3 linked regions of the Homo sapiens genome follow. The gene in region 2 interacts genetically with the main gene of each other region. Each region holds a gene or a part of one and is shown on either strand. Other genes may lie near its edges.

Region 1 (3,652 bases), on a different chromosome or scaffold from region 2:
CTGACCAACATGGAGAAACCCTGTCTCTACTAAAAGTAGAAAATTAGCTGGGCGTGGTGGCACATGCCTGTAATCCCAGCTACTCGGGAGGCTGAGGCAGAAGAATCGCCTGAACCCAGGAGACGGAGGTTGTGGTGATCACACCATTGTACTCCAGCCTGGGCAACAAGAGCAAAACTTCGTCTCAAAAAAAAAAAAAAAAAAAGAAAAAGAAAAAAAAAATCTATAAAATAGGCTGGGCACAGTGACTTATGCCTCCCAAGTGCATCCCAGCACTTTGGGAGGTGGAGGCGGGTGTATCACCTGAAGTCAGGAGTTAGAGACCAGTGTTGGCTAACATTGTGAAACCCCGTCTCTACTAAAAATACAATAATTAGCCAGGTATGGTGGCGCACACTTGTAGTCCTAGCTACTCAGGAGGTTGAGGCAGGAGAATTGCTTGAACCCGGGAGGCCGAGGTTGCAGTGAGTCAAGATCACGCCACTGCACTCCAGCCTGGGTGACAGAGTGAGACTCCATCAAAAAAAAAAAAAAAAATCTATAAAATAGGGCCAGGCATGGTGGCTCACAACTGTAATCCCAGCACTTTGGGGGGCCGAGGTGGGCAGATCTCTTGAGCTCAGGAGTTTGAGACCAGCCTGGCAAACATGGTGAAACCCTATCTCTACTAAAAAATATAAAAGTTAGCCGGGCGTGGTGGCAGGCACCTGTAATCCCAGCTATTCGGGTGGCTGAGGCAGGAGAATCACCTGAACCTGAGAGGTGGAGGCTGCATTGAGCCAAGATCGTGCCACTGCCTCAAAAAAAAGAGGTCTATAAAATAACACACACTTGGCAGCACTGAGTGCAGAAAAGTACAATGCAATCATCTCATTAAATGCTTAACAGCTTTGACAGCTGAACTGAACGGTAAAAATGAGGTTTTGTGGATCTGAAGTCTCACCTCTTAGATCCCTGCAACTTTTCATGATCTAAAAGTATCCAGCTAATGTGAAATATAATCTCGAGTTTCCCAAAGACCAGAAGAAGGCAGGTAAGTGATGCAGTTATATAAGCTCCTGTAAGGATCAATTCTTGATGACCTCTGAGGTCCCTGAGAGCTCTAATAGTTAAGGTTCTACCTGTGCTAATGGACGGAAGCAGTGCCTTAGATGAGATACCTCATTTCTTTCTTTTTTTTTTTTTTGAGACAGAGTTTCGCTCTTGTTGCCCAGGCTGGAGTGCAATGGCTCGATCTCGGCTCACCGCAACCTCCGCCTACCAGGTTCAAGCAATTCTCCTCCCTCAGCCTCCTAAGTAGCTGGGATAACAGGCATGCAACCACCATACCCGGCTAATTTTGTATTTTTAGTAGAGACGGGGTTCCTCCATGTTGGTCAGGTTGGTCTCAAACTCCCAACCTCAGGTGATCCACCCACCTCAATCTACCAAAGTGCTGGGATTACAGGCATGAGCCACCACACTTGGCCCTCATTTCTTCTTTTTAGAATTTTATCTATTTTTTAGGCTGGGCATGGTGGCTCACGTCTGTAATCCCAGCACTTTGGGAGGCCGAGAAGGGAGAATCGCTTGAGCCCAGGAGTTGGAGAACAGCCTGGGCAACACAGGAAGACCCAGTCTCTACCAAAAAAAACCACATTTTTTATTTATTTTTTATTTTATAGAGATGGAGTCTCACTTTGTTGCCCAGGCTAGTCACAAACTCCTAGACTCATGTAGTCCTCCTGCCTTGGCCTCTCAAAGTGCTGGGATTACAGGTGTGAGCCACGGCACCTAGCCAAGACATCTCATTTCTATTGGCAAGCAAAATGTGAGCCTGGGGCAATTTTTTTTTCTTTAGTATGCTTTGTTTGGCAATAAACCAAAAATGGTAAAGAGAAGTAATTAAGAAGGTACTGGAAAACAAGTATTAACAGAAAAGGGAATATATAGGTTAAGTACACTTAATCAGAAACTCTTGAGATCCGAAATGCCCCAAATCAGAAAGTTTTTGAGTTTTGAGTGCTGACATGATGTTCAAAGGAAATTATCACTGGAGCACTTCAGACTTCCAGATTAGGGATACTCCGCTGGTTAAGTATAATGTACATATTCTAAAATCTGACAAAAATCCAAAATCTGAAACACTTATGGTCCTAGCCATTTCAGATAGGGAATACTCAACCTGTCTAGGGTAGTATTCAGGCACAGGTTCAAGCGCAGGCACAGGTTCAAGCGCAGTCACAGCTCACTGTAGCCTCAACCTCCCAGGCTCAATAGATCTTCCCACTTCAGCTTCCCGGGTAGCTGGGACCACAGGCGTGCACCACCATGCCAGCTAATTTTTGTATTTTTAGTAGAGACGGGGTTTCACTATGTTGGCCAGGTTGGTCTTGAGCTCCTGACCTCTGATGATCCGCCCACCTCAACCTCTCAAAGTGCTGGGATTACAGGTGTAAGCCACCGCACCTGGCCATTTCACATATTTTTTTGAGACAGGATCTTGCTCTGTCACCCAGGCTGGAGGCCAGTGGTGAAATCATAGCTCACTGTAACCTCAAACTCCTGGGCTTAACCCCTTCTCCTGCCTCAGCCTCCTAAGTAGCTGGGATTACCGCCAAAACCTTTATTTTAAAAGAGAATACAGGCTGGGTGTGATGGTTCATGCCTGTAATCCCAGCACTTAGGGAGTCCAAGGAGGGAGGCTCTCTTGAGCCCAAGAGTTCGAGACCAGCCTAATCAATATGACAAAACCCCATCTCTACAAAAAATACAAAAAATAGCTGGGCATGGTGGTAAGTGCCTGTAGTCCCAGCTATTCAGGAGGCTGAGGCAGGAGGATCACTTGAGCCCCGGAGGTCGAGGCTGCAGTGAGCCAAGATCACACTACTGCACTCCAGCCTGGGTGACAGAATGAGACCCTGTCTCCCCCAAAAAAAAAAAAAAAAAAAAAAACACTCGAAAAGGGTAATACAATGGCACATGTGCAAGGCAGTCACATCAACAGCAGGTTCCCCATGATGCACTACATGGGGCCAAGAACTATGTGCATACTGCCACAAAAAGAATAAAATACCTTGGCTGGGTGTTGTGGCTCATGCCTGTAATCTCAGCACTTTGGGAGGCTGAGGCTGGTGGATCACCTGAGGTCAAGTGTTCGAGACCAGCCTGACCAATATGATGAAACCTCATCTCTACTAAAAATACAGAAAAAAATTACCCGGGCATGGTGGCACGCACCTGTAATCCCAGCTACTCGGGAGGCTGAGACAGGAGAATCATTTGAACCCGGGAGGTGGAGGTTGCAGTGAGCCGAGATGGCGCCACTGCACTCCAGCCTGGGCAACAAAAGCGAGACTCCATCTCAAAAAAACAAACAAATAGACAAACAAACCTAGGAATACAACTAACCAGGGAGATGAAAGAGCTCTACAATGAGAATTACAAAATACCGCTCAAATAAATCAAAGAAGATATAAACAAGTGGAAAAACATCTCATGCTCATGAATAGGAAGAATCAATATCATTAAAATGGCCATACTGCCGAGCATGGTGGCTCACACCTGTAATTCCAGCACTTTGGGAGGCTGAGGTGGGCAGATCACTTGAGGCCAGGAGTTCAAGACCAGCCTGGCCACATGGCCAAACCCCATCTTTACTAAAAATACAAAA
Region 2 (3,652 bases):
GACTTCCATCTCTTCATTTTTTCTCTCCTGTGCTCGCTGACGCATCATGCCACGCCGCCGCTCTATTTCCTATCAAGTCATATATATAAGCCAGTCAGTCAAATGGCCTATGGCTTTTTGTTCGTCTCATCAAACACAACAAATTCAAATGTAAAAAGATACAACTTAGTATCATTCTATTTTTAATCCTATCCCCACAAACAAGGAACATGATCAGAGTCCTGCCAAAGCAGTGATCTCATGTTTTTAAGGCTTCAACAAATGAGCACTGGCATGAACTTTTTCTTATATCCAGAAAAAAACTTCCCATGTTCCTTTATCATACCTCATCATCAATTTCCTCCTCCTCTTCTTCACTGCTGTCTTCTCGTTCCATGCGCCAAGCATCTCCTTCTACTTCTGAGTCACTCTCTCCTACCACTTCAGGTTCCACTATTTTTCGATGTCGAGCCAATCTGAAAAACAGTATCTCCAAATGTAACACCAATGTCATAAAAATGAAGTAGCATCAACTGCATTTCCATAGCCACAGAGCACATTATGTTTGCCTTCATTAATACTGAAGTTTTTTTTTTTTTGAGGCAGGGTCTTGCTCTGTCGCCCAGGCTGCAGTGCAGTGGTGCGATCTTGGCTCACTGCCACCTCTGCCTCCCAGACTCAAGTGATCCTCCCACCTCAGCCTCCTGAGTAGCTGGGACTATAGGCGTGCCACCACACCTGGCTAATATTTGTATTTTTTGTAGAGACGGGGTTTTACCATGTTGCCCAGGCTGGTCTTGAACTCCTGGACTTAGGCAATCTGCCCACCTCAGCCTCTCAAAGTGCTGGGATTATAGGTGTGAGCCACCATGTCCATCCAGTATTAAAGTATTGAGGTGGAGGAAACTGAGGTGCAGATTAAAGAAACTAAACTAGGATGTCAGAGCGAATAGTCAAGTTGGGCCTGAAATACTAAATGTATGTTGAGGCATCCTGGGGCACCACAGCAAGCCAGCAAACTCATAGGGATGCATTGGGATTTTTTTTTTTTTGAGACAGAATCTCACTCTGTCACCCAGGCTGAAGTGCAAGGGCATGATCTTGGCTCACCACAACCTCCACCTCCCAGGTTCAAGTGATAATCCCTGCCTCAGCCTCCCGAGTAGCTGGGATTACAGGCATGCACCACCACACCCAGCTAATTTTTTTATTTTTAGTAGAGATGGAGTTTCGCCATATTGGCCAGGCTAGTCTTGAACTCCTGACCTCAGGTGATCCGCCTGCCTAGGCCTCCCAAAGTGCTGGGATTACAGGCATGAGTCACTGAGCCTGGCCTGCATTGGAATATTTTTAATAGCTCAAGATAATTCACTTTCAACATTAAGTCACACTACATTCCTTTCGAGAATATCGTGTCTTTGTGAAACTGGGTTTTGGTGGCTGCTGTGATAAAAAGTAAAAGAAAGTATAGTATGAAAATCAATATAAAACAAGACATGAAAAAGTGACAGTGCTGATTCCAAGGTTTGAAAGGCTGTCAGTGTCCAACAGGCAAACAAATTCCACTAGTAACTATGGTTATGTGAGAATGAATAAAAGTGTTTTTTCCCCCCTGGGCACTGTAATTTTATTTTTTTTTCTTTTTTCTTTTCTTTTTTTTTTTTTGAGATGGAGTCTCGCTTTGTCACCCAGGCTGGAGTGCAGTGGCGTGATCTCGGCTCACTGCAATCTCTGCCTGCCAGGTTCAAGCAATTCTCTGCCTCAGCCTCCCAAGTAGCTGGGATTACAGGTGCCCGCCACCAGGCCTGGCTAATTTTTTTGTATTTTTAGTAGAGATGGGGTTTTACCAAGTTGGCCAGGCTGGTCTTGAACTCCTGACCTCGTGATCCACCCGCCTCAGCCTCCCAAAGTGCTAGGATTACAGGCGTGAGCCACCGCACCTGGCCATGGGCACTGTTAATCTTCAAGTGGCAAAGTTATTAGGACATAAATACTTATTAAGTTACTTGGCTCTAACTACTTAATAACTAAAATAAACAGAACTGTTTTGGCCCAGGAGCTCTGTGAAAAAACTCCTGGGACAATTATGAACGGTGAAAGTTCAGGACTCCTGGCCTACTCTATAAAGTAATGTCTCCATCAATATATAACATACAAAATCCCTCACTGGGAGGCTCTCTTTCTACCATGAGACCTTTATAAGGTCTTTTCTCCTACTTCAGTGTCATTTCCCCTTATTAGCATTTAGAATAAGTAGATGTATAAAATCAATTTACCAAAGTTTATAAAACATCTTTGTGCTAAAAAGACTCCTCTCAACAGCCAACAAATGGTCTGTGTTTTCTATTCCCATAAGGAGTTGAGTAGGTCCTTTAGGCCAGAAGTAACCTGCTGTTTCCTGAAGCTGCCACTTTGTAGCTTTGGTCATGTAACTTTCTTAGCCCCTTTGTGCTCTTAGTTTCCTCCTTTTGTGAAATGGGGATAATAGCACCTATTTCATAAAGTTATTGTATGGATTACAAGAATTAGCAAATGTAATCTACTTGGTAGTACTATTCAAGTATTAGCTATTATTATTATTATTAAGCTGTAGAGGTTCATGTTCAAGTAAACACAATCACAGACATTACCTCTCTTCCACATCTTCACTAATACGGTTCTGTAAACGCCGTAGCCGGGGGTCACTGGATGAATCCTCCTCCTGTTCCTCAGGCTCTGCTTCTTGTTCTTTGGCTTTCTTAATGAACTGAAATTCTTCATCCTCCTCATCTGAGGACTCCATAGGGGCATAGTCTGGCCTTTTTCCGGACACATAACGCTTTACCTTCACTTTTTCCATTGAAATCTCACCTGGGCGAGAAAGGTAACTTATGTTTCAGTAGCCTCTTTCTCAATGTGCTTCAACCCATCACGGCCTTTGCAAATAGAGCCCTTTATTCATAGTAGACAAGAGTCTAAGCAGAAGAAGAAGAGAGCCACTACCCAACCATCTACTCTTCTAATGGTGTTTTCCTACAAAGGCCAAGTCATGAGACTGCATCCTTGTGAAAGCCAACACTGATGATAATGAGGCTTACCTTGAGTACAATGAAGTAGAGGAAGGTAGGCAGTGAAACAGTAGAAAAAAGTCCCCCCCCAAAAAGGCAGACTGCATCCATCACAAATTCATGGTATCCCACCTCAACTATACCCTTAAACAAATTATTTGTAACAGTGCCCAGCACATAGTAAGGGTAATTTCTGCAGGAACATAAAACTGCTCAGGCATTCTTGTAGTTCCCTCTGGAATTTCCATGGCAGCCTTTATAACATACTGCCACATGACTCAATATTCTAATCTTACCTATTTCTACCTTCTTTTCCTTTACCTTATGTGTTATCAAACATGCAAGAGTATGTAATCTCTTACAAATACAATTCTTTTTTTTTTTTTTTTTTTGAGACGGAGTCTCGCTCTGTCGCCCAGGCTGGAGTGCAGTGGCGTGGTCTCGGCTCACTGCAACCTCCGCCTCCCGGGTTCAAGTGATTCTTCTGCCTCAGCTTCCTGAGTAGCTGGGACTACAGACGCATGCCACCATGCCCAGCTAATTTTTTGTATTTTTAGTAGAGATGGGGTTTCACCGTATTAGCCATGATGGTCTCGATCTCCTGACCTCATGATCCGCCCACCTCA
Region 3 (3,652 bases), on a different chromosome or scaffold from region 2:
TTTCCTTAAATACCGGGATTTTTGAAGGGGGGCACAAACCATCAAATTAACTTCACTGCACACGAAATGCTCACCATGGGACAGCCTGCCAAGCACTTTTCACACGTGATTTAAATCACAGGCACTGTGGCAGCACCATTAAGGAGACAAGGAACAAGCCAGGAGAGGTGCCAGCCACGGAGCTGCAGGCTGAGCACGGGAGGGCCCAGAGCCCAAGCCTTCCCTTCCTGAACACCCCCGGGCATGGTTCCGACCTAGTCTCGTGAAACCACCGGAATTACAAAGTTTTGTATGTGATATATTTTGCCGAGGTGCATGTTCATAGTACCATTCTCACACTCAAAGGGACCTGTGACCTCAAAATGTGAGCACCTGCTGGTCTGAGGCAGTCTTTTCTCTGTAGGAATAAAGCTTTGAAATACAATAAGTAAATTACTTTTCTTCCGGAGGGCTATCAAAAACGATTTTCCTCAAAAACCATTTTGGATGTTATTAAAAACTTCGACATTTTGTTCTCTATTCCTAAAATCCACTTAACCCCTGAATCCTAACCGTATATTAATTAACATTCAATTGTAGAACTCACTTCCGAACCTTCTAATAGGAACATTTTCCTCATGTTTTTGTCTTGTATGAGCTTTGACAGCATATACTTACTCCGGTAAGAGGAAGCTAACGCTGATGGTTGTTTGTTTAGAGGGATCTGTAGCAAATGAATCCGGGCCACATGTTATCTGGAATTCCCTCTGTAAAATGACGTGACGTTGTGAGTAGGCACAGTGTCTGACGGTTGTCAACTACTCTAGGTTATCTGGATACACGAAATGGAGCGAAACAGGCTTTCCACTAAGTTAACTTTCCTTTCAAACAAATTACCATTCTTTCAGCTTGAAAAGCTCTCCCATACTCTGTACCAAACATGACAGCATCTGAAATCCCATCATCAATACCCAGTCCAAGTCCTCATGTCAACATATTTACCAGGAAGGACACAAACACGGTGGGGCACTCACAGGCTTGTCCCAGGGTGTCTGAGCTGGCACCACGGTGCTTGGTTCAATTTTCTGGAATTTGCTCAGTGCTTCCTCGTGAATTTGTTTCAGATGCTGTTCTAATGGAAAATTACCGTACGTGAAGAACCTAAAATTTTAAGGGAATATAATTAGTCTGTTTTAGTTTAAAAGATGTGAGATCAAGTGCTGTCTGTTTCACTGAAACACAGCACAGGAGTGCCCCTTACCCAAGGTCTCGCCTTTCGGTTTCAGTCACCCTTACTCAACCAAGGTCCAAAAATATCACGGTACTTCGAGAGACCAAAATTCATGTAACTTATTACAGTATATTGTTATAATTGTTCTATTTTATTATTAGTTATTGTTGTTAACCTCTCGCTGTGCCTAATTTATAAATTCAACGTTCATTCACAGGGCATGGTGCTATTCCTGGCTTCAGGCATCTGCTGGAGTGCAGTGGCACCGTCACAGCTCACTGCAGCCTCAAGCAATCCTCCAGCCTCAGCCTCCTCAGTAGCCGGGACTACCAGGACTACACCACCACACTTGGTTTTGGTGGGGGGTTTTTTTTTTTGAGATGGAGTCTCGCCCCGTCCCCCCAGGCTGGAGTGCAATGGCACAATCTCAGCTCACTGCAACCTCCGACTCCCAGGTTTAAAAGATTCTCCTGCCTCAGCCTCCCAAGTTGCTGGGATTACAGGTGCCCACCACCATGCCCAGCTAATTTTTGTATTTTTAGTAGAGATAGGGTTTCACCATGTTGGTTAGGCTGGTCTCGAACTCCTGACCTCAGGTGATCCACCCGTCTCAGCCTCCCAAAGTGCTGGAATTACAGGCGTGAGCCACCGTGCCTGACCGGCTAATTTTTAAGTTTTAGAGGTGGGTTCTATGTTACCCATGCTGGTCTCAAACTCCTGGCCTCAAGCAATCCTCCCATCTTGGCCTCCGTAAGTGCTTGGATTTGCAGGCATGAGCCACCACACCTAGCCAAAAATCGATCTTACATTTTAAACTTCATCTAGATGTGACAAAAACCAAATGAGGTATTTGTTAAAACACTTTATAACCCTAGGTACAGTAATATAGTAATCCAACTGACAATTTCACAAAACTCAATTTTTGGCAACAAATTCAAGGTTATACACGTTTATAAAGATAACACATTTATTCAACCAGAGGAAAAAGGTTACAATGACAGAATTTATCTTTTTCTTTACTATATAGCCTGAGCTATGGTTAAGGTTTGGGAAACTAGTATCTTACAGAACCTTCAGAAATTTCTCACTCTAGAATTTAGAAACAAATTTTACACACTCGGGGTTGAGAGAATCCAGGAGCAATCACCACCCCTAGTGTTCAGATGCTGCTCTCCAAAGACCCTTCCCCATTAGCCACAGAAATCAGAGCTCCCTGGGGAAACAGACAGTTGAACCTCTGGAGCAGGGAGGGCCCGGCTGTGCGTGCATTAGGGAGGTGGGGGTGGGGGCGTAGAAACCAAAGAAGTTAGACCAAAACGGGCCCACAGCTGGGGCAAATGTGGGCATAAAAATGAATAAATTCCATCTGATCACATAATCTCAAATATATACATATACAGAAATATTTCTGTGAGGTCAGAGTGGTACTAAAAAACAAAACAAGACTGGGGAAAAAAAAAAAAAAGAAGAAAAGAAAGAACTCTCTTCTCCATGTTGGGCGCAGTGGCTCACACCTGTAATCCCAGCACTTTGGGAGGTCAAGGTGGGCAGACTGAACTCAGAAGTTCAAGACCAGCCTGGGCAACATGGCGAGACTCTGTCTCTACAAAAAAATATAAGCACTAGCTGGGCATGGTGGCGTGCGCCTGTAGTCCCAGCTACTCAGGAGGCTGAGGTGGCCCAGGAGGCTGAGGCTGCAGTAAGACAAGATCATGCCACTGTACTCCAGCCTGGGGGACAGAACCAGACCCTGTCTTTAAAAAAAAAAAAAAAAAAAAACAAGACAGCCTCTTCTGTCACCATTAAAAGTAGTTCCTGCACCACCCCTCCTCCTCAAACTGGACTTCCCAGGGAGAGCAGCCGGCCCTGCCTTTTCCACAGAACCATATTTCAAGATAACCCGATAGCCCAGCTGATGTGGAGCTCTTCTTTGAAGAAGTCCAGCAAACAAATGAAGAAGTTACAGAACTAGAAAACTTCGCAAACTCTAATAAAGTAATTGATTCAGGCAATAATCCTCAATGAATATGAAAACCATTAATAGGTTGATGAGGAACTCATTATCACAGGACACCAGAAACTCAAGCCCACCAGATGGTCTGTGGCTGAAGGGAAAAAGCAGATCTTCCCAAGGCAGTGGCTGACTCTCAGCATGGACCCCGCTGGTGTGAGATCCCCAGTGGAGGCGAGCAGACCTCACATGATGGTAGGATGTGGCCGTCTATGGAGAGCTCCCCATGAGGGACTCTGCTTACAAAGGCACAGCCTGACTCAAACTAAGTCTTTGGATCTAAGTTCCAGTGCTCAGGAAACACAGGAACATGGCACCCAACACCAGGCGGGAACAGCCAGGCCACCTGGAAAGTGAGTGCGCCAGAAAGAAACTGGGCCTGCACACTCCTCTGCCGTCCCCTAGAGGGTGCCCAGGAGAAACCCGGGCCG

What was found.
Region 1: changes in MFAP1 (region 2) and PSMD4 together harm fitness less than expected from each alone (positive genetic interaction), as found in Homo sapiens cells (one large-scale study listed by BioGRID).
Region 3: changes in MFAP1 (region 2) and PITRM1 together harm fitness more than expected from each alone (negative genetic interaction), as found in Homo sapiens cells (one large-scale study listed by BioGRID).

What each region holds. Positions count from the first base shown.
Region 1 is NC_000001.11:151,257,734-151,261,385, reverse strand, and holds part of PSMD4 (26S proteasome non-ATPase regulatory subunit 4), read right to left. Parts: intron 1-3,652. UniProt on the Homo sapiens protein: Component of the 26S proteasome, a multiprotein complex involved in the ATP-dependent degradation of ubiquitinated proteins.
Region 2 is NC_000015.10:43,814,620-43,818,271, forward strand, and holds part of MFAP1 (microfibrillar-associated protein 1), read right to left. Parts: intron 2,830-3,652; coding exon 2,610-2,829; intron 456-2,609; coding exon 326-455; intron 70-325; coding exon 1-69. UniProt on the Homo sapiens protein: Involved in pre-mRNA splicing as a component of the spliceosome.
Region 3 is NC_000010.11:3,159,191-3,162,842, forward strand, and holds part of PITRM1 (presequence protease, mitochondrial isoform 2 precursor), read right to left. Parts: intron 1,141-3,652; coding exon 1,014-1,140; intron 747-1,013; coding exon 658-746; intron 1-657. UniProt on the Homo sapiens protein: Metalloendopeptidase of the mitochondrial matrix that functions in peptide cleavage and degradation rather than in protein processing. Has an ATP-independent activity. Specifically cleaves peptides in the range of 5 to 65 residues.